3 linked regions of the Homo sapiens genome follow. The protein of the gene in region 3 purifies or fractionates together with the protein of the main gene of each other region. This does not show direct contact. Each region holds a gene or a part of one and is shown on either strand. Other genes may lie near its edges.

The links.
Region 1: the proteins of VWA2 (region 3) and WDR47 purify together in Homo sapiens (affinity purification with mass spectrometry; 2 studies listed by BioGRID and IntAct, with this or other methods). This does not show direct contact.
Region 2: the proteins of VWA2 (region 3) and DYNLT2B purify together in Homo sapiens (affinity purification with mass spectrometry; 2 studies listed by BioGRID and IntAct, with this or other methods). This does not show direct contact.

The regions. Positions count from the first base shown.
Region 1 is NC_000001.11:109,039,013-109,046,666, reverse strand, and holds the start of WDR47 (WD repeat-containing protein 47), read left to right. Parts: upstream 1-4,564; 5' UTR 4,565-4,805; exon of another isoform or gene 4,806-5,147; intron 5,148-5,694; exon of another isoform or gene 5,695-5,717; intron 5,718-5,741; exon of another isoform or gene 5,742-5,799; intron 5,800-7,654.
Region 2 is NC_000003.12:196,315,241-196,322,373, forward strand, and holds the start of DYNLT2B (dynein light chain Tctex-type protein 2B), read right to left. Parts: upstream 3,001-7,133; 5' UTR 2,913-3,000; coding exon 2,800-2,912; intron 2,352-2,799; exon of another isoform or gene 1,734-2,351; intron 1,603-1,733; exon of another isoform or gene 1,202-1,602; intron 992-1,201; coding exon 858-991; exon of another isoform or gene 845-857; intron 1-844. UniProt on the Homo sapiens protein: Acts as one of several non-catalytic accessory components of the cytoplasmic dynein 2 complex (dynein-2 complex), a motor protein complex that drives the movement of cargos along microtubules within cilia and flagella in concert with the intraflagellar transport (IFT) system.
Region 3 is NC_000010.11:114,284,182-114,291,286, forward strand, and holds part of VWA2 (von Willebrand factor A domain-containing protein 2 precursor), read left to right. Parts: intron 1-681; coding exon 682-789; coding exon of another isoform or gene 790-793; intron 794-1,757; coding exon 1,758-2,330; intron 2,331-4,756; coding exon 4,757-5,308; coding exon of another isoform or gene 5,309-5,364; exon of another isoform or gene 5,365-6,052; intron 6,053-6,058; coding exon 6,059-6,184; intron 6,185-7,036; coding exon 7,037-7,056; 3' UTR 7,057-7,105.

The sequences.
Region 1 (7,654 bases), on a different chromosome or scaffold from region 3:
GGGCTGGGCACGATGGTTCATGCCTGTAATCCTAGCTCTTCGGGAGGCCAAGGGGAAAGGATCATTTTAGCACCAGCCTGGGCAACAAGGCAAAACCCTGTCTCTACTTAAAAAAAAAAAAAAAAAAAATTAGCCAGGCATGGTGGCTTGCACCTGTAGTCTCAGCTACTGGGCTGGGGAAGCGGAGGTGGAAGGATCGCTTGAGCCCAGGAGTTCTAGGCTGCAGAGAGCCATGACTGCCCTACTACACTCCAGCCTGGGCGACAGAGTGAGACACTGTCACAAAAAACAAACAAACAAACAAACAAAAACCCTCTAGAATTCTATGATTCTGACCCAATAATTAATTATTAACGATTTGTTAATAAATGTAATTAATTCCTAGCTGGGCACGGTGGCTCACATCTGTAATCCCAGCACTTTGGGAGACTGAGGTGGATGGATCACTTGAGGTCAGGAGTTCGAGACCAACCTGGCCAACATGGTTATACCCATTCTCTACTAAAAATACAAAAATTAGTTGGGTGTGGTGGCATGGGCCTGTAATCCCATCTATTCGGGAGGCTGAGAAAGGAGAATTGCTTGAACCCGGGAGGCAGAGGTTGCAGTGAGCTGAGATCGCCCCACTGCACTCCAGCCTGGGCGACAGAGCAATACTGTCTCAAAAAACAAAAAAAAAAAAAAAGAAAGAAAATGTAATTAATTCCTAAAGTTTCAGAATATGGGTCCATGGGGAAAAGGTTCTAACTGATAAAAATGTGGGAAATGGGATAAAAAATGAAGTTAAAAAAAAAAGGATACTGGTTCTCAAAACTTCTTGTTTGATCATAAAGATTTAGAAGTGGTTTCTTAGATGAACTATACTAGCAAAATAATTGAGATACTACTTTCAGGAAAAACGTATCTGCCTACTTTTTCAATTTAAACACTCTGTAATGTGTTGTTTGTTTGCTTGTTTTGTTTTCAATATCAAGATCCTGGGTAACATTCAATTATGTTTATATTTATTTGCCTGTCACTTATCATTAAGAGGGTTCATAATGAAGACTTTCTTCCAGGAGTTACTGACTAGGCAATTGAAATTTTGTAGTTCAGCTTTTGTGTGTTGTTTTCTCTGAATGCATAAGTATTTTTCTTAGAAATGTTTCCTCGGCTGGGTGCAGTAGCTCATGCCTGTAATCCCAGCACTTTGGGAGGCCATGGCGGGAGGATCACTTGAGGTCAGGGGTTTGAGACCAGCCTGGCCAACATGGTGAAACTTCGTCTCTACTAAAAATACAAAAATTAGCCGAGTGTGGTGGCACACAAATTAGCTGAGTGTGGTGGCACCTGCCTGTAATCTCAGCTACTCAGGGGGCTGAGGCAGAATTGCTTGAACCCAGGAGGCAGAGGTTGCAGTGAGCTGAGATTGCGCCATGTACTCCAGCCTGGGTGACAGAGTGACTCCGTCTCAAAAAAAAAAGAAAGCCAGGCACAGTGGCTTATGCCTGTAATCCCCAGGACTTTGGGAGGCCAAGGCAGGCAGGCGGATCACGAGGTCGAGACCAGCCTGACCAACATGGTGAAACCCTGTCTCTACTAAAAATACAAAAACTAGCTGGGCATGGTGGTGTATGCTGTAGTCCCAGCTACTCTGGGGGCTGATGCAGGAGAGTCGCTTGAACCCAGGAGGAGGAGGTTCAGAGTGCCAAGATCGCACCACTGCACTCCAGCCTGGGCGACACAGTGAGACCCCATCTCAAAAAAAAAAAAAAAAAAAGGAAAAAAAGAAAAGAAAAGAAAAAAAAGAAATGTGTATCTTCAAGCTCTCGCTTCTTTTATCTTGAACTGGACAAGATTTTGTATTCCCAGAAATATGGTTTAAATTTTGTTTATTTTTAATTTTTATAGTTACATAATAGTTGTAGATATTTCTGGAGTAAATACAATGTGTAATGATCAAATCTGGGTAATTGGGATATCCATCACCTTAGAAATGCATTATTATTATTAAGACACAGGGTCTTACTCAGTCACCCAGGCTGGAGTGCAGTAGTGTGATTATAGCTCATGGTAGCCTCGGACTTTGAGCTCAAACTATCTTCTCACTTCAGCCTCTCAAGTAGCTAGGACTGCAGGTGTGTCTCACCGTGTCTAATTTTTTATTCTTGTTTTTGTAGAGAGGGAGTCTCACTATGTTGCCTAGGCTAGTCTCTAACTCATGGCCTCATGTGAGCCTCTGGCCTAAGCCTCCCAAAGTGCTGGGATTTCAGGCATGAGCCACTGTGCCCACCCATTTATTATTTCTTTTCTTTTTTTTTGAGACGCGGTCTCGCTCTGTCACCAGGCTGGAGTGCAGTGGCCCAATCTCGGCTCACTGCAACCTCCGCCTCCCGGGTTCAAGTGATTCTCCTGCCTCAGACTCCCGAGTAGCTGGGACTACAGGCGCACACCACCACACTCGGCTAATTTTTGTATTTTTAGTAGAGACAGGGTTTCACCATGTTGGCCAGGATGGTCTCGATCTCTTGACCTCTTGACCTCGTGATCTGCCCGCCTCGGCCTCCCAAAGTGCTGAGATTACAGGCATAAGCCACCACGCTTGGCCTGCCATTTACTATTTCTTTGTGTTGGGAACATTCTGAATCTTCTCTTCTAGCTGTTTGGAAATATAGAATAGATTATTGTTAACTATAGTCACCCAATTATGCTATTGAGCACTAGAATTTATTCCTGCTACATAACTGTATTTTTGTACCCATTAACCTCTTTATCCCCCCTTTGCCCTCCACTACACTTTCTAGCCTCTGGTAACCACCATTCTATTCACTACCTCCACGAGATCAATTCTTTTAGTTCCCACATATGTGTGAGAACGTGCAATATTTGTCTTTTTGTGCTTGTCTTGTTTCACTTAACATAATGTCCTCCCGTCCCATCCATGTTGCTGCAAATGACAGGATTTCATTCTTTCTTAATGGGTGAATAAGATTGTATTGTGTGGCCGGGCGCGGTGGCTCACGCCTGTAATCCCAGCACTTTGGGAGGCCGAGGCGGGTGGATCACGAGGTCAGGAGATCAAGACCATCCTGGCTAACACGGTGAAACCCCGTTTCTAATAAAAATACAAAAAAAAAAAAAAAAATTAGCCGGACCTGGTGGCGGGCGCCTGTAGTCCCAGCTACGCGGGAGGCTGAGGCAGGAGAATGGCGTGAACCCGGGAGGCGGAGTTTGCAGTGAGTCGAGATGGCGCCACTGCACTCCAGCCTGGGCGACAGAGCGAGACTCCGTCTCAAAAAAAAAAAAAAAAAAAAAAGATTGCATTGTGTATATGTACCACATTTTCTTTATCCATTTGTCTGTTGATTGACATAGGTTGATTCTATATTTTGGCTATTGTGAATAGTACTGCAATAAGCATGGGAGTGCCAGAAATATTTTTGATGTTTATTCTCTTTACCAGACTGTTACCCCATTTTCCCCTTTTGGGAGGTCCAGCTCACTCTGGACTTTCGCCTCTGTGAGGATGATGTTCTTTTTTCTGTGAGACGGAGTCTCTCGCTCTGTCACCCAGGCCGGAGTGCAGTGGCATGATCTCGGCTCACTGCAACCTCCGTCTCCCAGGTTGAAGCGATTCTCCTGCCTCAGCCTACCAAGTAGCTGTGATTACAGGAGGCTTGCCAGCACACCCGGCTAATTTTTGTATTTTTAGTAGAGACGGGGTTTCACCATGTTGGCCAGGCTGGTCTCAAACTCCTGACCTCAGGTGATCCGCCCGCCTCGGCCTCCTAAAGTGCTGGAATTGCAGGCGTGAGCCACCGCGCCTGGCCGAGAATGATGTTCTTACAGGTTTGTGTAATTGTATTCTTCCTTATGGTTATACTTCCTGGATGCTTAATTAAGCTCGGTTGAACATCACGTATATTTGTGGAATAAGGGGCTTACAACCAACAGGAGTAGACAAAACCTGAACATATTAAATGTTAAGTAACTGAAAAATGCTTTCAAGGCAGATCAGCTTTGCAAAATGAGAAACCAGGAAGGGGACAAACAAACTACTGGAGTTTTCTGGGACGAAGTGGGACCTAGGAAAGCAGCGAAAGAAGGGTAGAAGGCAACATTAATTTCATTAACCTTTATTAATTATCGGGGAGGAGTATGAAGAGTCAATCCTAATGCGCAGTCTTCTCCATTTGCAGGCGACAATCCTGTTCGTGCTATTTTGGGACATGGGGTCACCGGCCAGCTAAGGGTCTACGTCCCTGCCACCAGTCTCACGCTATTGCCGCACCCGTTCTGCTACTCCCCCGGGCCCCTAGCCGGTCCCTCCAAGCCCGACCCCCGCCCGCCCCGCCCAGGCTTTGGTCCGCCCCGCCCAGGCTTTGGTCCGCCCCGCCCCTCCCCGCCCCAGCTTTGGGCCCGCCCCTCCACGCCCCTCCCCGCCCCGCCCCGCCCCGCCGACTCGCCCTTCGGCTCAGGCACCTGCCTGGCCGCCCCGCGCGGCGGGGTCCTGAGGCGCCTCGGGGAAGCGCGGCGATTGGCTGCCGCTCGCGGGTAGAGCTCGGCTCCCCGGCACTTGACAACCGCAGTCTGCAAGAGGCTGAGCTGAGGAGTCGCTGGGCCGGGAGGGGCGGACGTGAGAAGGACGGATTGACGAACTGATGGATTGACGCGCGGGCGGTAGGAGGGAGGACCGACGCCAAACCCAGACCGCCGCCGTCGTGCTCCTGCCGCAGCCCGGAGCCGGCCGCTTCGGGGCCCTGGCCGCCGGCCTCCCAGCCGCGTTCTCCTCCGCCGCTCCTCCGGGCTTGCCCTGGAGCCCTCAGGTGGGTGACTCCGGGAGTCGGAGGCTGGGTCGGTCCGCTGCACACCTCGGGTTGCCATGGTCACCCGTCGCCTCCTGTCACCACCTGACACGGCTCCGACCGGGCGGCCCCGAGGACTGTGTTTGCGGCCCCGGAGAGGGGTCTTTAGTGGGCTTGGGTGCCGACTGGGAGGGGGCTGGGGTCGTGGGTGAGGCCCCAGCATCGCGGGGTGAGGATCTGCGAACTGCTGGGCCCCGGTTCGAGGTCACCGGTCCTGGACCACACCTTTCCCACATTACCAGTTGGATTCTGGGGGCAGAGCGACGCCCCTCGCCCTGGCACTGAGCAGCAAGTGAGCGCGAGGTTCGTGCCCATCTCGCCGCTGCGCCGATTCTTCCTTCCTCGCCCCTTGGTCGAGCCCGTGCGAGAACTGAGGGGCGCGCTCGCGTCCCTTTCTGGGCACGCCTTGGCCCGGAGGAAGAGAGGGAGCGGCGGGGCTGGGAGCCCCGCTGGGGCCGGTTTTGGCCTTTCTCACATCAATGGTCGGGATGGGAGCAGGCCTTTGGGGATCTGGGTGTGGTCGCGGAAAGGGGCAGCGACTCGATTTAGAACTGGGATTGCGCTGGAGGGGCGCCTGCGTAGAAGAACGCAAGGTTGTGGAACTCAAAGGGTTAAACCGCTTCCCTTTATTGGGGAGAAAAATATTGGAACTCTAGCTCTGGGGCGAGGCCATGGGCAAAGGGGGCGGGGGCGGGGGGCGAGGGTAGGCCGGGGCGGCATTTGGGCTTTTGACCAGATGATTTTTCCTTCTCTGTACCCAGACGTGCAGTTAGTAACCGTGCATGGTATCTGAGGGGACCGTTTTTTTTTTTTGGCAACTTGGTTTTCTCTGCATAATGAAAGGAGAAGTCTTTGTTCCACCCAGATTCGTAGGTTGTGATCCTAATACTTATTTCTCTCTTTGTTGGAGACTCTGTAGAATGCCTCAAAAAGTTAATGGCACAGAAATGAACATGTAGGTTTAAAAAATGCTATAAATCTTTTTTTCACAGTAAATTCAAGTAGAATTTTTTTGTCTCCAGTGTTGGCATATGTTGCATTGGCATTTTACTAAGAAGGAGAAACGCCTAAGAGCCCATTTTCCTTTATATGGCATATTGTCGAGGTCTCATTTAGGAAGAAGATGAAATGAATAATTCTACTTTAGGTTTGGGAGATTAGGAGAGATTGCTTCCAATAGGAAAGAAACATTATTACACGGTAATGGAAAAGTCAAGTCACAACAGTATATTGTTAGGTAAAAAAGCCAAAACCCAAACACTTGAATTTGGATGCCATTATGAAGATGTAAATTTTTTTTTTTTTTTGGACGGGATTTTAACCTGTGTTTATCTCCCACTGGTCCACTTCCTGGTTCTTTTCTCCCTCGCCTTAAAAACCAGTACTGTTAAGAATGTGTCATAAGAGAACAGGGGTACTATCCTATGTTACTACTTACATAATGGTGTTCAACCTCTTTTCCTGTTTGTGAAATAGAATATATTAGTTATTTAATGGGCGGCATATGAAATGCTTAATGTATGCTGCAGTTTCAGAAACGCTTTAGTTATGAAAAGATGTGCAGTTTTCCTTAGTAGATCAGTAAGCTGAAAAATCAGATTACCTGTATTTAAGCTTTCTTTTGCTACTGATTGCATTCTTGTAAGAGCTGCTAAGCTTAACATTGACTGATTTCTCATTCTGTAAAATGGTGATGCTTGCTATTGTTTTAGTCTGAGAATGGGCTTTGAGTTGAAAGCACTTTGGAAGGCATCTGTTGATTACCTTTTTTTTTTTTTTTTTTTTTTGAGACGGAGTCTCACTCTGTCATCCAGGCTGGAGTTCAGTGGCATGATCTCGGCTCACTGCAGCCTCTGCCTCCTGGGTTCAAGCGATTCTCCTGCCTCAGCCTCCCAAGTAGCTGGGATTACAGGTGCCTGCCACCACGCCCGGCTACTTTTTGTATTTTTAGTAGAGATGGGGTTTCACCATGTTGGCTAGGCTGGTCTCGAACTCCTAGCCTCAGGTGATCCACCCGCCTTGGGCTCGCAATGTTGGGATTACAAGCTTGAGCCACCGTGCCTGACCCTGTATATTATTTTTGAACAGAAGACTTGAACCCAGGTCTTCAGACTCCAAATCCAATGCTGGCCCACACCTGAGGATACTTCAGTTTTGAGACTATTACACCGAATAGCCAAAGCTTGCATATTTCAACTAATTTTTCTCTATGTTGAGTTTGTTTCTGTTCAAGTGAAAAGATATCCTTAAAAAAGGGTTTATACCGGCTGGGCGTGGTGGCTTGTGCCAGTAATCCCAGCACTTTGGGAGGCCAAAGCGGGCGGATCACGTGAGGTCAGGAGTTTGAGACCAGCCTGGGCAACATGGTGAAACCCTGTCTTTATCAAAAATATAAAAATTAACTGGGCATGGTGGCGTGTGCCTGTAATCCCAGCTATTTGGGAGGCTGAGGTAGGAGAATTGCTTGAACACAGGAGGCAGAGGTTGCAGTGAGCCAAGATCATGCATGCCACTGCACTCCAGCCTGGGCGACAAAGCGAGATTCCACCTCAAAAAGAAAAAAAAAAAGGATTTATACCACACACTCCCTTAAAACCTTTCTTTTGTGTTCTATAGTCTTATTCACTGTAATAGCTCGATCATTGTATCCCAGTTTGTAGCATGTTGTTAATACATAGTAAATGCTCATCACTCATTACCCACCTGAACTTCTCCTGTTTAAATGGCTTCAGATGAATATTATCACAAGTAGGAGTTTCTTCATATAGTATGTTTAACATAATTGATCTCAGTGAACTTTCCAATATTTA
Region 2 (7,133 bases), on a different chromosome or scaffold from region 3:
AGAGATGTTTTATTTTTTTATTTTGCTTTTTTTTTTTTTTGAGACAGAGTCTCACTCTGTCACCCAGGCTGGAGTGCAGTGACGCGATCTCAGCTCACTGCAACCTCCACCTCCTGGGTTCAAGTGATTCTCCTGCCTCAGCCTCCCAAGCAGCTGGGACTGCAGGCGTGTGCCACCACACCCAGCTATTTTTTGTATTTTTAGTAGAGACAGGGTTTCATCGTGTTAGCCAGGATGGTCTCAATCTCCTGACCTCGTGATCCACCCGCCTCAGCCTCCCAAAGTGCTGCGATTACAGGCGTGAGCCACTGCGCCCGGCCTTTATTTTGCTTTTTAATACACATGAGGTCGGCTGGGCGCGGTGGCTCATGTCTGTAATCCCAGCACCTTGAGAGGCCGAGGCGGGTGGATTACCTGAGGTCAGGAGTTTGAGACCAGCCTGACCAACATGGAGAAACCCCGTCTCTACTAAAAATACAAAATTAGCCAGGCGTGATGGTGCATGCCTGTAATCCCAACTACTCAGGAGGCTGAGGCAGAAGAATCACTTGAACCCGGGAGGCGGAGTTTGCAGTGAGCCAAGATCATGCCATTGCACTCCAGCCTGGGCAACAAGAGTGAAACTCCATCTCAAAAAAAAGAAAAATAGACATGAGGCCTCACCATGTTGCCTAGGCTGGTACTGAACTCCAGAGCTCAAGCAATCTTCCTGCCTTGGCATGCTAAAGTGTTGGGATTGTAGGCGTGAGCCACCACACCTGGCCCCAATGTCCTTTGTTTAAAGATGGAGAGGGGGCAAATGGGTAATACTGACTCTGTGAAGAGAATGAGTCATTTCCAGTTATCACCATGATTACCTTTTAATTTATCTTTAATGTTTTCTGATAAATGTTTTGTAAGCTGAGGCATTTCTTCTGGAGAATATTCAGCATTTGCCAGTTCCTCCTTGAGCACAGCATGGATACAGTCTTTAACCACAGAGGGCCTGAACCTGAATGGAACAATTTGTGAACATCCAGTCGGTGACTCCACAACCCCAGCTTACCTTCATACCGCAACTTCTCCCATCTTTTTGTCATTAGTACCACTTAATCCTTCTTTTTCATATTTTTTATTATAAAATATAAACAAATTAAGACAAATCATAGGCCACATGTGTATCTTCAACCTGGACCTGCACTGAACTTCAACACATTCCAACTCATGCTCCATATGAATGTTTATTAGGCAACTCAATACATCCAATAATGAGCTTCTCATACTCCCCTCTCCCCCAAAACAAAATATATACTTGTTGTTAATTTTGTTCTGCACGCTTTCACAAAATAAAATAAAATAAAATAAAATAAAAAAATACGGCTGAATGGCATTCTGGGCATTCAGAACCTTTTACCAAGATAACTGAGGGTATCTTTCTCTGTGTTCATTCTACCCAAGGGAAAAATCCTGTATGAAATTTGTATCACTTTTTCTGTGAGTTACCAAGAGAATAAAAATAAACAAAGAAATTTGTATCACATTATAATCAAAATTCCTGTTTTCCATATTTGCCAAGCAAATATGGGGTGTGTGTGTGTGTGTAAAGTTAGTGATCTTACAAACCTAGCTGAGTACCCTCTGCTCTGGCCCGTGAGCCTGACATTTTTTTCAGTGTGTGTGTGTGTGTGTTGTGTGGTGTGTGTGTGTGTTGTGTGGTGTGTGTGTGTGTGTGTAAAGTTAGTGATCTCACAAACCTAGCTGAGTACCCTCTGCTCTGGCCCGTGAGCCTGACATTTTTTTCAGTGTGTGTGTGTGTGTGTGTGTGTTGTGTGGTGTGTGTGTGGTGTGTGTGTGTGTGTGTGTGTGTGTAAAGTTAGTGATCTTACAAACCTGAGTACCCTCTGCTCTGGCCCGTGAGCCTGACATTTTTTTTCAGTGTGTGTGTGTGTGTGTGTGTGTGTGTTGTGTGTGTGTGTGTAAAGTTAGTGATCTTACAAACCTAGCTGAGTACCCTCTGCTCTGGCCCGTGAGCCTGACATTTTTTTTCAGTGTGTGTGTGTGTTGTGTGTGTGTGTGTGTGTAAAGTTAGTGATCTTACAAACCTAGCTGAGTACCCTCTGCTCTGGCCCGTGAGCCTGATATTTTTTTCAGTGTGTGTGTGTGTGTGTGTGTGTGTGTGTGTAAAGTTAGTGATCTCACAAACCTAGCTGAGTACCCTCTGCTCTGGCCCGTGAGCCTGATATTTTTTTCAGTGTGTGTGTGTGTGTGTGTGTGTGTGTGTAAAGTTAGTGATCTCACAAACCTAGCTGAGTACCCTCTGCTCTGGCCCGTGAGCCTTAATCCTAGCGAGGGCTCGCTGCGGTGGTCTAAGGGCCTCCAGATCCCACCCGGGTAGGACTTCGCACAGATGCAGCTCCCGCGCCGGGAGTGAGCCCATCCTGGCACCCGTGTGCACAGTCACCCTCGAATCACGGCTGAACGGCATCCGACGCGAGTGGCTTCCTGCCTCTATTCTACCCATCTCCTTACTCAGGACGCCATCGCGGGTTTCCCAGGGCCAACCATTCCCGCCGCGCCACCCTAAGACGCGCCCGGCGCCCAAACACTGAGGAAGCGGGTGGGGTCCCCTGCGGCCCCTGCAGCGGGAGGGGCGCCCGGACGTCACAGCAGGGCCGCCCGCCCGCCTCGCGGCCTCCCGCCTCCCGCCCCGCGGACCCCGCGCGTCCCCCGCGCTCCTTCCGTGGCCCAGGTCCCAGGCGAGCTCCGCCCCTCAGACCAGCGCGCTCGAGGTCGCCCCGCCACAGCCCGTCCTCTACCCGCCTCTGCTGGAAAACAGGCCGCAGAATATAGGTGTTCTCGGGCTCCCCTGCGTTCTTCTCAGCCTCAGGCACCCCGTCGCCCACCGAGAAGGACACTCCGATGGACGTGGCCATGCCGGGGCTTCTCGGTCCGGGCGTAGCTCGCGATGAAGGCCTAGCGGGTTGCGGTCGCGGCCGGCAGCAGGGAAAGCGTCTCCAGGGCAACAGGGCCGCCCTCCCGCCTCGCTGAAGCCCGCGAGCGCCCCGCACAGCCGCCCTCCCTGCCCGCGCCTGCGCACCGGCTGCTGGGCGGGAACTGGTCGCGTCCGGACGCGCGACAGCTTCCACCCGCCTCAGGCAGTATCAGCCGCGCCGCAGTCGGAGGAAATAGACGCGGGGCCTGAGGCTCCTGGACTTGAGGTATTAGGCTGGTGCAGAAGTAATTGCGGCGGCCGGGTGCGGGGGCTCAGGCCTGCAATCCCAGCACTTTGGGAGGCCGAGGCGGGCGGATCACCTGAGTCAGGAAGAGTTCAAGACCATCCTGGCCGACATGGTGAAACCCCATCTCTACTGAAAATACAAAAATTAGCCGGGCGTGGTGGCGCGTGCCTGTAACCCCAGCTGCTCTGGAGGCTGAGGCAGAATAATCTATTGAACCCAGGAGGCCGAGGTTGCAGTGAGCCGAGATCGCGCCACTGCACTCCAGCCTGGCGACAGAGCGAGACTGCGTCTCAAAAAAAGAAAAAAAAAAAAAAAGGAAGGAAGGAAAGAGACTTAGGCTGCATTCCCCGCTTTTAAAAATATATATTTATTTTTATTTTTTTAAACGAAGTCTCGCTCTGTCACTCAGGCTGGAGTGCAGAGGCGCGATCTCGGCTCACTGCAACCTCCACCTCCCAGGTTCAAGCAATTCTGCCTCAGCCTCCCAAGCAGCAGGGATTACAGGCGCGCCCCACCACGACCGGCTAATTTTTTTTGTATTTTTATTAGAGACGGGGTTTCACCATATTGGCCAGGCTGGTCTCCAACTCCTGACCTCAGGTGATCGCCCACCTCGGTCTCCCGAAGTGCTGGGATGACAGGCGTGAGCCATCGTACTCTGCCGCATTCCCTGCTTATAAGCACCAGTCCCTGGTCCTGTTTTAGAAGGCTGTTGTATCTTGGCCTCTGCTAGCTTCAAAAACTAAGGCCCGATGAGGTAGCTCGTGCCTGTAATCCCTGTTTACAGGAGAGGCTGAAAGGGCAGGGATTCCTTTTTTTTTTTTTCCCACTTGAGACAGGGTCTTGCTCTGTTTCTCAGGCTGGAGTGCAGTGGCACACTCACCGCTCACTTCAGCCTCGACCTCTTGGACTCAAGCAGTCCTCCCACCTCAGCCTCTGGAGTACCTGGAACTACAGGCGAATGCCACCGCGCGTGGCTAATCTTTTTAATTTTTGTAGAGATAGGATCTGGCTATGCTGCCCAGGCTACTATTGAACTCTTGGGCTCAAGTGATTATCCCACCTCAGCCTTCCGAAGTGCTGGGACTACAGGCATGAGCCATCACAGCCAGCTGGGATATTGTTTTTCGAATCGCTGTCATGTTCTGTACTATATGCAGTTCCTGAAAGAATGGAGGCAAGAAGGAGTCAGCTAACCACTGTGAACTGTCTTAGTGCCAAGGACCCACCCTTCTCTCCTTGGGGTCCTGCTGACCCATCAGAATAGGGCTGAGCCAGGATGGGGCTTGTGGAGATGATGTGTATGAGTGTGCATGCACTTGTGTGTGCATGCCTAACATCCAAAACTAGATATAAATTCTTTAAACTTTTCATTAGTTGGCCAGGCACGGTGACTCGCACCTGTGATCCCAGCACTTTGGGAGGCCGAGGCGGGCGGATCATGAGGTTAGGAGATCAAGACCATCCTGGCTAACATTGTGAAACCCGGTCTCTACTAAAAATACAAAAATTAGCTGGGTGTGGTGGCATGTGCCTGTAATCCCAGCTACTTGGGAGGCTGAGGCAGGAGAATTGCTTGAACCAGGGAGTCGGAGCTTGCAGTGAGCCGAGATCACACCACTGCACTCCAGCATGAGACTCTGTATCAAAAAAAAAAAAAAAAAAAAAAATTCTGCGTGAGTTGTGTGGAGGTGTCAGTACCTTTCCCCAGCAAGAGAAGCTTCTCCATATCAGGCATATCCTAGCCATGACCCTGAAACTAACCAGCCAAGAGGGAAATGTGAGACAAGCCCAGGCAAGCTTCCTGGATGTTGTATGCAGGAATAGGATGTGCTCTCTGGACTTGGAGACTTCCTGCCTGCTCAAGAGGCTGTGCCTCCTTGTGTCTCCCACAGGCCTCTGTGTCCACCTTCCCCACCCTGGCAGGCCTGCTAGGCCAGCAGCCCTGGAGAGGAAAGGGTGAGGTGGTGTTTGAAGGGACCTGCCTCCTACGAGCTCTGCTGGTTGGACTGTCGGATGACAGAACCGTGCCTCTGAGCCTGGGAGAGGGAGGCACCCCTGTGTTCTGGAAGCCCCCAGTGCTTCAGCAACTCCTCACTGAGGCAGAATAGTGGAGGAATCAAGCTGGGATCCAGGGGACTGAGGAGGGGATAGAGCAGCACCTGGGCCCCACATTCCCTTCCAACAGAGCCTGGGGTGCTGTGTTTCCGGGAGGGTTTTTTTTGTTTTTTGTTTTCCCGAGACAGAATCTCGCTCTGACCCCCAGCCTGGAGTGCAGTGGCATGATCTCGGCTCACTGCAACCTCCGCCTCTCGGGTTCAAGCAATTCTCCTGCCTCAGCCTCCCGAGTAGCTGGGATTACAGGTGCACACCACCACACCTGGCTAATTTTTGTATTTTTTATAGAGACGGGGTTTCACCATGTTGGCTAGGCTGGTCGTGAACTTCTGACCTCATGATCTGCCTGCCTCAGACTCCTAAAGTGCTGGGATTACAGGTGTGAGCCACTGCACCCGGCCTCTTTTTTTTTTTTTTTTTTTTTTTTTGTGAGACAGAGTCTCTGTCCCCCAGGCTGGAGTTCAGTGGTGCAATCTCGGCTCACTGCAACCTCTGTCTCCTGGTTTCAAGCAATTCTCCTGCTTCAGCCTCTGAATAGCTGGGATTACCGACATGCACCACCACGCCCATATAATTTTTGTATTTTTTGTAGAGCTGAAGTTTCACTATGTTGGCCAGGCTGGTCTCAAACTCCTGACTTCTGGTGATCCACCCACCGTGGCCTCCCAAAGTGCTGGGATTGCAGGTGTGAGCCACCGTGCCCGGCCAGAGCCTGGGGTTCTCAAACTCGTTTCTGGGGACCGCCCACCACTTTTCTTGCCAGTGCCCATCTTCCAGGTTCCTCCCAGGCTGCTTCTGCCTGCCTTGTCCTCTTCCTGCCTGTCACACCACACTCTCCCACCAGCATCTTCCTCATTCCGCTCTGACTCTCCTCACCACCCAGCCCGACCTGACTGAAAACCCCGCAGTGGGAGAGCAGGAGGCCCCTGCTTCTAGGTGCCGTGTGAGAAGCAGCTGTGAGGTCGGGTTGGGTGGCTCACGCCTGTAATCCCAGCACTTTGGGAGGCCGAGGTGGGCGGGTCACAAGGTCAGGAGTTCAAGACCAGCCTGGCCAATATGGTGAAAACCCATCTCTACTAAAAGTACAAAAAAAATAGCCAGGTGTGGTGGCGGGTGCCTGTAATCCCAGCCACTCAGGAGGCTGAAGCAGGAGAATCGCTTGAACTTGGGAGGCAGAGGGTGCAGTGAGCCGAGATCATGCCACTGCACTCCAGCCTGGGCAACAGAGCGAGACTCCATAAAAAAGAAAAAGAGATTTAATTGGCTCACAGTTCTGCAGGGGTTACAGGAAGCATAGCACCCACATCACTCAGCTTCTGGGGAGGCCTCAGAGAGCTTTTACTCATGGCAGCAGGTGAAGAGGGAGCAGGCGAGTCACATAGTGAGAGCAGGAGCAGGCGAGAGAGAGGCCAGAGGTGCCACACGCTTCTAAATGACCAGATCTCGCGGGAACCCACTATCACAAAGACAGCTCTGAGCCGTGAGGGATCCGCCTCATGATCCACACACCTTCTGCCAGGCCCCACCTCTAGCACTGGGGATCACAATTCAACATGAGATTTGGGTGAGGACAGATATCCAAACTGTGTGGACAGAGGTGATGCTCCTCTACTTGTTGAACTCTTGAACACTAGTGAAGAGAATGCTGGTGTATTAGTCTGCCAGGCTGCTGTTGCAGAATACCATGAACTGGGCACTTAAGCAACTGAAATAGATTTTCTCACAGTGCTGGAGGCTAGAAGTCCAAGATCCAGGTGCCAGCAGGTTTGGTATCTCCTGAGGCCTCGCCCCTGCGCT
Region 3 (7,105 bases):
ATGTAAACTTTCAGCTTTGAAGAGGCCTTGCTCATAATTTGCATCTCACATCCAAAAGTCAATACTGTCATTACCTGTTGGGGAGTGTTTTTTTAGTGCTGAGACTTTCTGCGGATTAATTCATTTAATCCTCACAATAACCCCACAGAACAAGTTCAGTTCCCATCACTCCTTTTTAGATGAGGATATGAAGATGGGAGAGGTTAATTAAGGTGCCGGAGGAAGTGGAAGAGGCCACATTCAGTCCTGAGCAGCCTGACTGCAGGATCCGAAGGCTGGTGTGTTTTGCTGTGCCAGGTGCAGAGGCCATTAAGACAACCCTGTGTAGAACTTAGAAGACAGGGCCCCATTGGCACCGCAGCTCTCTCTCAGTCTTGAGGCACCCACACTTGATGCTACGGGGAGCTTCCTCCTTGTCAAGCTTCAGTCTAACACCAGTTCATCACACAGGGCCTTACCAAGCCTGCTACAGAGCATCCTTTACCACCCGTGCCCAGCCCCTCCTTTATGAACTCCACAGTGCTTTCCCCTCTCTGCTGCAGATTTCCTGGTGGACTGTGGGGGAAGGGAGGGGCTGGGCCACTGCTAGAGCAGGAAGCCAGCTGCACCCACACCTCTGGCCAGTCCTCTCCACTCCTCTGTGCTGCGGTGCTTAGCGGTTAATGGGCATCTCTCTGATAGGCCCCTGTGACTCGCAGCCCTGCCAGAATGGAGGCACATGTGTTCCAGAAGGACTGGACGGCTACCAGTGCCTCTGCCCGCTGGCCTTTGGAGGGGAGGCTAACTGTGGTAGGTATGCACCGGCCCTGCAAGACTGACCACTGGGGAGCAAGAAGAGGACGGGCTCCCCTTTTCATTGCACGCCCTTCCAGCTGCTGGGTAGAAACTGGCCCTTGAACCATCTGCTTTCCAATGCACCACTGGTCTGCAGTTCACGTGGTGCAGCCTGTCAGTGCTCCGTGAGTAGATAATTGGGGTGGCTGAGCTCTGGATGAGACAGTGGCTCCCAGCTTATTAGCTGCAGAATGGTCACTGCTTGAAGTTTGAGTGCTGCCCAGCCCAGCTGAAGGCAGGAGTCCACCCAACTCTGGCTCCCAGTCCTGGGCAGAGTCTTTTCTTCTCTATTCTATGAAAGCAGAGCAAGGAGCCCCGATTCCTTTTGATTTTAGAGGTGTGAAATGAAGATGATAGTAGGCTTTACCTCACTGGGTGGTTGAGAGTTTTAAATAAGATTATGCAAAGTGCTTAGTACCATGCTTGACGCATATAAGGGCTTGATGAATAATAACTTTTAAAAACAAGTGATACTGGGTTAGTTGAAGATCTGTATGAAAACAATCTTGACCCTGTACCTCACAACCCTACCAGAAGTCAATTCTAGCGTGGCTATAGACCTCTGTGCAAAAGGCAAAGCAGTGAAGCCTGTAGAAGCAAACACAGGAGCATATATTTTCATGATCTTGAGGCAGACAAAGATTTCTCAGGACACACACAGGACTAACCATAATGGAAAAAAGTGATAATGTAGATGGCATTTTTCTTTAAAAAGTGGCTAGATGGAGACCCTTAGCGAGTGCCAGGAGTGCCATGTCTGGCCTTGTCTCTAACTCTGTGACGAGCACGGGTCACTTAAGCTTGGGGGGCCCACAGTTTCTCTGCACCATCTCCCTCCTGGGAGATGTTCGGCATCTCGGGTGGGACAGCTCGCATGCCGCATGACCATGGCTTGACAGTGGGTGTTGCTGTGATCCCCGCAGCCCTGAAGCTGAGCCTGGAATGCAGGGTCGACCTCCTCTTCCTGCTGGACAGCTCTGCGGGCACCACTCTGGACGGCTTCCTGCGGGCCAAAGTCTTCGTGAAGCGGTTTGTGCGGGCCGTGCTGAGCGAGGACTCTCGGGCCCGAGTGGGTGTGGCCACATACAGCAGGGAGCTGCTGGTGGCGGTGCCTGTGGGGGAGTACCAGGATGTGCCTGACCTGGTCTGGAGCCTCGATGGCATTCCCTTCCGTGGTGGCCCCACCCTGACGGGCAGTGCCTTGCGGCAGGCGGCAGAGCGTGGCTTCGGGAGCGCCACCAGGACAGGCCAGGACCGGCCACGTAGAGTGGTGGTTTTGCTCACTGAGTCACACTCCGAGGATGAGGTTGCGGGCCCAGCGCGTCACGCAAGGGCGCGAGAGCTGCTCCTGCTGGGTGTAGGCAGTGAGGCCGTGCGGGCAGAGCTGGAGGAGATCACAGGCAGCCCAAAGCATGTGATGGTCTACTCGGATCCTCAGGATCTGTTCAACCAAATCCCTGAGCTGCAGGGGAAGCTGTGCAGCCGGCAGCGGCCAGGTAAGGTCCCAGTGCCTGACCCAGGACCGCTGGTCAGTGGGCGGGTCCTTCCTCCTTTTGGCCACCACCTAACCATCATTTTCTGCCAGTGCCTCTTCTAGGGGCTGAAACCACAGCCCCACTCTTTCAGGCACCAGTCACATAAATAATTTTCAGTTTACCTGTCAACAAAATGGGACTAATAGTAGTACCTCCTGAGAGATCTTTAGTGAGAATTAGGTAAGATGGGCAGTGTACATGCTTAGTACAGAGTAAGCACTCAGCAAACTCTAGGTGTTGCTGTTATCATTCTTAATCACGATTTTATTGTTGTTGTTACTAAGAGCTCTGAATCTACTAAGCAGGCTCCAGAGCAGCAGCTTCCCAGCTCCTTTGATGGCAATCCACAGAAAAGTGTGTTCCTGGTGCACACATGCACATGTATGCACACATACACACACGGATGCATGTGCATGCACACGCGCTGGTGCAGCCACACACAACTGAAACAAACGCTTCCTGAGAGGATACTTACCCTGTCTACTTGGGATGCATTCTGACATTTTTCTCTTCTGTTCTGTTTTGCAAGCCATGAAGCTGATTTTTTATGACCCCTATTGGAAGGCACTCTAGAGAACACTGTCCCCACGCAGAGGCCTGGCCCATGGCCAGAGATGTAGTAGCTGAAACACGTCTTTTTTTTCTTTTGAGACAGGGTCTTGCTCTGTTACCCAGGCTGGAATGCAGTGGCACGATCATAGCTCACTGCAGCCTTGAACTCCTGGGCTCACGTGATCCTTCCACCTCAGCCTCCAGAATAGCCAGGACTACAGGTGCACACCACCATGCCCAGCTAATTGTTTTATTTTTTAGAGAGATGTGGTCTTGCTATGTTGCCCAGGCTGGTCTCGAACTCCTGGGCTCAAGCAATCCACCCACCTCAGCCTCCCAAAGTGGAGGGATTACAGGCTTGAGTGAAATGTAAGCCTTTATAGGGCTCCTGGAGTTCTCCCCTTGGTAGGTGGGCATGGGAAGCTACAGATGTGATTCTGCTTCTCAGCCCTGATGCCACCACTCTCCCCAAGGCGAGAGGCTTTCCCTCCTGTAAGGCGGAAGGACAGGGATTGGCTGCCCACTCCCACCCTGCCCCTCCAGGCTGGTCTAAGTGCTTTTGTTCTGCTGCTTTGTTTGGTTGGATTTTTTAAAAAAAATAATAGTTGTAGATTTATAGGAAAAAATAATTGACAATAGTGGAGAGTTCCCTATACCCCACACCCAGTTTCCCCTCCTATTAACACCTTGCATTAGTATGGCACAGTGTTATCATTAATGAACCAGTATTGATACATCATTATTTAGTGAATCCATGCTTATTTATATTTGTTTAGTTTTTACCTAATGTCTTTTTTGTGTTCCAGAATCCCATCCAGGACCCCACAGTACATGTAGTCAGCCGCCTTCCCCGTAGCTGTGATAGTTTCTCAGACGTTCCTGGTGTGGGAGTGGTTTTAAAAACCAGTAATCAGAGCATCAGCTCCTCTAACTCCATACTTAGAATTTCCAGTGGTTCCCCTTTGCACTTGGAATAAAACCCAAACTCCTTCCCCTGGCTTCTGAGAGCTCCCTGTGGCCTGGTCCCCACAGGCCTCTCTGCATCCCCTGCACAGGAGAGGCCTTCTGGCTCATACTTACTTGTCTTTCAGTTCTTAGGTGAAATGTCACCTCCCCAGAGAAGCTCTGACCCCTTCTCCCAGTCTTGTTATGTTCCCCTACTGGTCTCTCTCGAAGTCCCCTGCTTTTCCCTCCACGCTGCCGACATCATTTGTAATTCTATGTTCATTTCATGTCTGTTCCCCTAGACTGTCAGCCTGTTGACAGCAGGCATGGGCCCATTTTGTCCATACAGCATCTAATTAGTGCCCTGCATACTGGGGATGGATGAAGGCACAGGTGAAGATGTTGTCACAAAGGGTTGCCCACAAACCCAAACCCCATGGGTTACATAAGACAGGAACTTATTTCTCTCACATACAGTTCAGAGGTGAGTGGCCCGGGCCAGCAGGGCTTGGTCATCTTATGGCTTCCACCTTGAGGTCCAAGGTCACCATTTCTCAGCCAGCAGGAAGGGGGAGAGGGGAAGTGGAAGGTAAGCAGCTTCCAGCTGCATGAGTTTGAAATTGATCACGTCCGTCAGATAGAACTTAGACACGTGGCCACCCTAGCTGCCAGGAAGTCTGGGAAATGTGGTCTGGCAGGCACTCATCTTCCTGCTAATATTCTAGGAAAGTGCTGTTCTGTGGCTAAAAGGAAGACATAGAGGGTGTATTCTGCAGTGAACAGAGCACCCTGGCTGACCTTGGTCCTACCCAACCTGGCAGTCCCTGGGTCCCGTCGAGGGGCTCTGACTGGCACATCCACTGCTGAAGCCCCTCTGCTTGCTCCTGCAGGGTGCCGGACACAAGCCCTGGACCTCGTCTTCATGTTGGACACCTCTGCCTCAGTAGGGCCCGAGAATTTTGCTCAGATGCAGAGCTTTGTGAGAAGCTGTGCCCTCCAGTTTGAGGTGAACCCTGACGTGACACAGGTCGGCCTGGTGGTGTATGGCAGCCAGGTGCAGACTGCCTTCGGGCTGGACACCAAACCCACCCGGGCTGCGATGCTGCGGGCCATTAGCCAGGCCCCCTACCTAGGTGGGGTGGGCTCAGCCGGCACCGCCCTGCTGCACATCTATGACAAAGTGATGACCGTCCAGAGGGGTGCCCGGCCTGGTGTCCCCAAAGCTGTGGTGGTGCTCACAGGCGGGAGAGGCGCAGAGGATGCAGCCGTTCCTGCCCAGAAGCTGAGGAACAATGGCATCTCTGTCTTGGTCGTGGGCGTGGGGCCTGTCCTAAGTGAGGGTCTGCGGAGGCTTGCAGGTCCCCGGGATTCCCTGATCCACGTGGCAGCTTACGCCGACCTGCGGTACCACCAGGACGTGCTCATTGAGTGGCTGTGTGGAGGTGAGTGGGGGAATCCACACCCTCAGGGCTGCCCCCATGGCAGGCCCTCAGCCTGAGCCTTCACATACATCATGACGAGGATGGCAGCTCTTCCCAGCTACTGAGCACTTGCTTCCCAAGTGCCAGGTTCTGTGCTAAACCCCATGCTCACATAAAATCCTACAGTAGGCATAACCATCCTATTTGACATTTAAGGTACAGAAAGTTTAACTAACATAGATAACTCCCCCCAAACTTGAGAATTTATGCATTCCCTTTAAACAGAACACACTTTTAGAATATCCACAAGCTTCCTAAGGGTCTAAAGATCCCACATTCACACTGACTTGGGCAGTGACAGAGCCCAGAGCAAACAGGGCCAGGCCAGCCCAAATCCAGTGACCTCCTCTTCACCTTCTTAAAAGAGACAGGAGAATCACTTGAACCCGGGAGGTGGAGGTTGTGGTGAGCCAAGATCGCGCCATTGTACTCCAGCCTGGGCAACAAGAGCAAGATTCTGCCTCAAAAAAAAAAAAAAAAAAGTCTGCCATGTGTATGGCACGTCTGAGCAATGGACTCTCCATGAGTCTGTAGGAGAGCTGGGTCTTACTAACCTAGCCAAGTGGTATGCAGCACCAACCATGAGCTACCGGGGCAAAGGGAGACATGACTCTAGTAGCCTTGCACCTCTACTGGGCTTACTTAGGGTAGGGGTCTTCGGGTCTAACCCATGCCTGGCCGGCCTGGTGGGTATGGTGTTCTCCATTGTAGAAGCCAAGCAGCCAGTCAACCTCTGCAAACCCAGCCCGTGCATGAATGAGGGCAGCTGCGTCCTGCAGAATGGGAGCTACCGCTGCAAGTGTCGGGATGGCTGGGAGGGCCCCCACTGCGAGAACCGTGAGTGGAGCTCTTGCTCTGTATGTGTGAGCCAGGGATGGTATTGCGAGTCCTGCCAAGTCCCACAAACTCAGCTGAAGGCAGGTTCTAAAACATTCGTTCAGTGGAAGAAATTATTCAGTCGTTTACCCACGAAACATTTAGTGAGTACCTCCTGCATCCCAGGCATTGTTCTCAGTGCAGGAACATAGCAGTAAACAAATGAATAAAACCTCTGCCCTCATGGAGCTTCCATTCTAATGGGAAGACAGACAATAAGCAAATAATACAACATGTGGTGTGGTAGACGGTGCTAAGCACCCCGGAGAAAGTCATGACAACTAGGAGGGAGGCCACAGTTAGGAGCACAGTAGATCCAGGGTACAGGGATGTAGACGGAGGCAGGGATGGGTAAATGCGGTGGTGGGAGCTGCTGGAAGCTCTTTTTGGGGTGCTATTTGCTCAGTAAAATGGGAGGAACAGCTAAGTGAGGACGAGGAGGAGGTGCTAGAGGTTTGAGAGAAAAGAAGTCATTGTCAAGGGTAACAGATTAGGACCTAGAGAGTGATCGTTGGGAGGCATTAGAGGTCCAACTATGGCTCCTGTTCATGAGTTTGAAGTTAGAACAGCCAGAAATCAGAAGACAAGTCCAGTCGGAGCCTTGGTTTTTTGGCCACGGGCAGAGGTTGGCTTCCTAAGGCCAGAGAGAAGCTCTGGAGGATAATCACATGGGGTCTCTAATCTGGCATCTTCTGCTGGGGGCGAGGTGGGTTGTAGAGTAAGAGCAGGACCTGAAGGGGTCCTCAGAGGCTGCTGGAGGGCTGAGAAGGGGATGCAGACACTCCTGTCCTCAGACTTCACTTCCTTCCCCAGGATTCTTGAGACGCCCCTGAGGCACATGGCTCCCGTGCAGGAGGGCAGCAGCCGTACCCCTCCCAGCAA